2 separate regions of the Homo sapiens genome follow, and region 1 is linked to region 2. Evidence: fine-mapped expression QTL. Tissue or cell type: monocytes. Region 2 holds a variant in brackets; the other region holds the start of a gene. All regions are shown on one strand. Distances are between the middles of the regions.

Evidence for each region. PIP is the estimated chance that this variant, and not a neighbour inherited with it, causes the effect.
Region 1: it holds the start of ERCC1, and the variant in region 2 is the best candidate, but not a certain one, in a credible set for the expression of ERCC1 in monocytes (TOPMed, PIP 0.83).

Annotation. Positions count from the first base shown.
Region 1 is chr19:45,422,719-45,425,389 of GRCh38, reverse strand. It overlaps ERCC1 (ERCC excision repair 1, endonuclease non-catalytic subunit), which reads left to right and starts at 1,473. Exons shown (of 10, transcript NM_001983.4): 1 at 1,473-1,609; 2 at 2,009-2,120. The coding sequence starts at 2,016. RefSeq lists enhancers at 745-1,039, 1,288-1,337, 1,398-1,487.
Region 2 is chr19:45,451,584-45,454,427 of GRCh38, reverse strand. No RefSeq gene overlaps it. Among named protein-coding and RNA genes, the nearest start is that of FOSB, 15 kb to the left of the region's middle. The variant A/G (reference allele first, on the strand shown) is at 1,433.

The DNA of each region.
Region 1 (2,671 bases), 29 kb after region 2:
ATAAATAAATCTTACATAGATTAAAGCCAGATGACCTGCTCATTCTAGGTCATTACTGTTTGGGACCGTGTCTGTGTCCCTCACTGAACTGTAAGCTCTGGGAGGACAACACGGGGCTTTTATCTTTTACGTAGATAAAAGAAATGATAGAATATATCATTATAGCCGTGCACTGTAATCCCAGCACTTTGGGAGGTCACAAAGTGACCTCAGGATCAGCTGAGGTCAGGAGTTTGAGACCAGCCTGGCCAACATGGTGAAACCCCGTCTCTACTAAAAATACAAAAAAAAAAAAAAAAAAAAAAAATTAGCCGGGCATGGTGGCACATGCCTGTAATCCCAGCTACTAAGGAGGCAGGAGAATCGCTTGAACCCGGGAGGGGGAGGTGCAGTGAACTGAGATCGCGCCATTGCACTCCAGCCTGGGTAATAAGAGCGAAACTCCGTCTCGAAAAAAAAAAAAAAAAGAAAAAAAAGAATTTATCATTATGACCCTGGGTTATGGCAGGGCTCTTAACACACCAAAAGCAAAAGTCAGAACGGAACAGATTGATAAATAGTTGCGCATAAACACAAATAACTTCTGTGCCAAAAATAACTAAAGTTAAAGCCCAAAGTAGAAACTAGGAGGAAATGTTTGCAATATGGGTAACTAAGGATTAGAATCAGAATCCATAAAGTACCCCTAGAAATTAATAGTAATAAAAAAGCCATACAACCCATTTTAAAAATGGACAAGGAATATGAGCAAGCAATTCACAGAAGACAAAATTTACAAGACCAATACTTTCACAAAAAACATTCCATTTCCTTAGTAATCAGAGAGCTGCAAGTTAGAACAGTGTGATACTATCCTTTCAGGAAGTGACTAATACTAACTCATCAGCCAGGCCCCTGCTCAGATGTCCCTTCCTCCAGGAAGCCCTTCCGGACTCCGGGGCTGAGTCAGGCGCTCCCCCTGACCCCCATCCCACGGCTCTCCCGGGATCTCCCATCCCAGACCTGCCCATTCTGGGTCAGCACTGGGAACGTGTCTGTGTCCCTTACTGAACCGTAAGCTCCGGGAGGACAACACGGGGCTGTCGTTGGTCACTGCTGTGTCACCAGCACGGACTCGCACAGGACCGGGAAGAGAGGAAGCGCGTGGGGGGAATAGGTGTGGAATAAATGAATGAATGAGGAAACTGAAGCCAAGTCAATGTCTGAGTTGGATTCAAACTTAAGTCTCTCCTTACTGAGAGGAGGGACCAAGTTGGATCTCCTGCGATCTGTTCTCCACTGAGCCCTGCCAGGATTCTGGGCACACAGAAGCGCTCAGTAAGGGCTTTGAAACTTAACAGTTTGGGAGCCAGATCCTCAGGCCACATCTCTCTCCTCCCACGACCTCCGCGGTCCTCCAGAACCATAGAGAGTTGTACAGAGATCGCCCTGCTCTATGCTCTACTCTCCTGGGGAGCGGGGCCAGAGAGGCCGGAAGTGCTGCGAGCCCTGGGCCACGCTGGCCGTGCTGGCAGTGGGCCGCCTCGATCCCTCTGCAGTCTTTCCCTTGAGGCTCCAAGACCAGCAGGTGAGGCCTCGCGGCGCTGAAACCGTGAGGCCCGGACCACAGGTGCGGGAGGCGGAGACTGCGGGTGGAGATTGGCGCCGCGGAAGCCAATCATTGCCGAGTCTGAGAGATGGACAAGGCCAGGCGTGGGGAGGGCGTCCAGATGCTAGCCTCGGGGGCCGGACGAACGGAAGGCGGGGGATGGTGGGGACGGAGCCAATAGAATCCGGTGGGGGCGAGGGGCGGAGCGATGGGACTTGTGGACCTGTAAGGGGCGGGGCGAGCCGAAGGTGGAGGTCAAAGGGGCGTGGCGTTACAGAGCCTCTAGCGCTGGGTGTTGGGGACCTGACGCTATGGAGCTCTCGGAGTTTTGTGGGGGACGGCTGTGAGTGGGGGGTTCCTGCTGCGGGATGAGAACGTAGACGCCAGTGGCTCACTCGCTCCTGGCACCTTCCCTTTCAGGCTCCAGATGGACCCTGGGAAGGACAAAGAGGGGGTGCCCCAGCCCTCAGGGCCGCCAGCAAGGAAGAAATTTGTGATACCCCTCGACGAGGATGAGGTCCCTCCTGGAGTGGTAGGACAAGGAGATGCGGGGCCCCTGGGAGGCTGGGGGCTGTTAGGACGAAGAGGATAGGATGGGGCCTGTGGGACCAGGGTGTGGGTTAGTGGATTTGGGGGCCACGGACGACTTGGGGAAACAGTCCTTGGTCCTCCCCAGGTCCCAGTTTCCCCATCTGTGAAATGGATGGGTGGTTCTAAGAGAGGGCTAAGGCAGAGGCCAGACACTGGCATTCAGCAGGTAGCCCCTGATGTGTTTTACGAGGCCAGCACCCTGATTTTTCAAGACATGAATTTATTGCTCGTGTTTAAGAATCGCCAGGTTTTGCAATCTTAAAAAAATCTACACTTTAGACATATTTTGGTAAATGGAAGGACCTGGCAATATTGAAATCTCCTTCCCAAGGGAAAACAATCGACGGGTGATGAGCATTGGCTATGAAGAAAAGGAAAGTGGGCTAAGGATGTAGGGCATGATGGGGGAGAGGACCTTCCTACTCTATTTATTTATTTATTTATTTATTTTTTTGAGACAGAGTCTCGCTCTTTTGCCCAGGCTGGAGTGCA
Region 2 (2,844 bases):
GTATTTTTAGTAGAGATGGGGTTTCACCAGGTTGACCAGGATGATCTTGATCTCTTGACCTTGCGATCTGCCTGCCTCGGCCTCCCAAAGTGCTGGGATTACAGGTGTAGGCCACCAGGCCCAGCAAAACAGTTCATTTCTTATAGTTCCCAGCCCCAAAATAGTCCTAGGAGGAAGTCCTTTCTGGAGTCTGACCCTCAGTCTGCCTGCTTCAAATGCGCTCTTTCATCCCTCTTTCACTTCCCACTTTCCCAGTCCCATGGAGTGATTTGAACCTCAATTCCATCCCGTCCCAACTTCACCCTTCATTTACCTTTCCTGAAACCAGACCACGGCTGGGCCTTGTAGCCATTGGGGTGTTCCAGATGCAGCTTCATTGAGTCCCAACTGGCCCTGGAGAAGGTCTGGAACATGCCCATGGTATAGGAAGGAAAGTGAGACTCAGGGCATTTGGGTACCCAGTAACACAGGACTACAGAGCTAAAGCCTGCATCTGCAACCCAGATTCTAGACACGCACACGCACATCCAAGGACACACACAGAGGAAGTAATAATACTGACAACAATCAAAACAGGTATTTTGTAAATGTTTGTTTTCTGCCAGGCATTTTCTAAATGCTTTCCATATGAACTCATTTACTCTCCCACAACAGTCCCATAAACTGGGTCTATTATTCTCCCTATTTGACAGATGAGGAAACCGAGTGCATAGAGGTCCTAATGCTAGCAGGAGGAAGGCCACACAGTTCGGCCGGACGCGGTGGCTCACGCCTGTAATCCCAGCACTTTGAGAGGCTGAGGCAGGTGGATCACTTGAGGTCAGGAGTTTGAGATCAGCCTGGCCAACATGGTGAAACCTCGTCTCTGCTAAAAATACACAAAAATTAGCTGGGCGTGGTGCAGGCACTTGTAATCCCAGCTACTTGGGAGGCTGAGGCAGGAGAATTCGGGAGGCAGAGGTTGCAGTGAGACGGAATCACACGTCTGCACTCCAGCCTGGGTGACAGAGTGAGACTCTGTCTCAAAAAAAAAAAAAAAAAAAAAGACAACAGAGTTCAAATCCATAGTTTTTAGGGGTTTTTTAAATTTTTGTTTTTGTTTTTTGTTTTTCTTTTGAGACAAAGTCTCACTCTGTTGTACAGGCTGGAGTACAGTGGTGTAATCACAGCTCACTGCAGCCTTGATCTCCTGGTCTCTGATGATCCTCCCACCACAGCCTGCCAAGTAGCTGGGATTCCAGGTGTGCACCACCATGCCCGGCTAATTTTCGTTTTGTTTTTATTGTTGTTGTTGTTGTTTGAGACGGAGTTTCACTCTTGTTGCCCAGGCTGGAGTGCAATGACGTGATCTTGGATCACTGCAACCTCTACCTCCCGGGTTTAAGCAATTCTTTAGCTTCAGCCTTCCAAGTGGCTGGGATTACAGGCACCC[A/G]CCACCATGCCTGGCTTTTTTTTCTTTATTTTTAGTAGAGATGGGGTTTCACCATGTTGGCTAGGCTGGTCTCGAACTCCTGACCTCAGGTGATCCACCCTCCTTGGCCTCCCAAATTGCTGGGATTACAGGCATGAGCCACTGCGCCTGGCCTAATTTTTGTATTATGTGTAGAGACAGGGTCTCACCTTGTTGCCCAGGCTGGTCTTGAACTCCAGGTCTCAAGTGATCCTCCTGCCTTAGCCTCCCAAAATGCTGGGATTGCAGGTGTGAGCCAGTGCACCTGGCCTCCTACTCCACGTGGCCCTGATATGTGCCATGAGGCTCTGATATGTGCCCTGCACTGTGGGGGGTGCCAAAAATTAGAGCTACATGGCTACAGAGACCCTCCTGTGCTATGGCCCACGCAGCTTCTAGACACACACAGAAGACCCAGTACCACAAAATCACTTGCAGGGTTACATGGATGTGTGTGCTCGACATGGACATAAGAGTCATCGATTCATTTACCCAACAAGGAATTACTGAGCACCTTCTCTGTGCAGGGTGGTGCTGGGGACCTGGCAGTGACCACAACAGCCTTGGGTCCTGCCCTCACAGGGTGCACAGTCCAGTGGGGGAGATGGACAGTAAACAAAGGAACAAATATATAATTAGACATTGCAATGAATGCTGTGGAGGGAGCTCTGAAAAATAATCTGTACACAAACGCAGGTACCTGCATGGTTACACACAGAAATCCAGAAACACACATGGCTAGGCACGGTGGCTCATGCCTATAATCCTAGCACTGTGGTGGAAGGCCGAGGTGGGAGGATCACTTGGGGCCAGGAATTGGAGACCAGCCTGAGCAACACAGCAAGATCCTGTCTCTACAAAAAAAACCAGAAAATTAGCCGAGTGTAGTGGCGCTTGCCTGTAGTCCCCACTAGTCGGGAGGCTGAGACGGCGGGGATCGCTTGAGCCCAGGAGTTTAAGACTAGCCTGGGCAACACAGCCAGACCCCATCTCTAAAAAACAAACGAAAAAACCAGAAACACACACACACAGAACCAGAAATGCACGGCTAGAGGCAAAACCGTGCACATCCATGGGTACTTATACAGGCATTGTTTCACATAGATGACCACATGCAAGACTCACAACTGCACACACATTCATATCTACACAGTCAGCAGGGCTACACACTCCCATACACCCAGATACACAAGTGCAAACCACAGAAACCACTCACTGAGTCCTGCAGTTTTGCTCTCACACAGGAAATACCAGATGTGCACATTGTCACCGACTGTTGCTCACCTATAGTCACATCCATTCACACTGTCACACACTCAATTTCTTCTCTCTGCTCGGAGATTCGCCCCAGCCCTGGTCACATGAAGCTACTGGATGGGGGGGTGTTGGGAGTG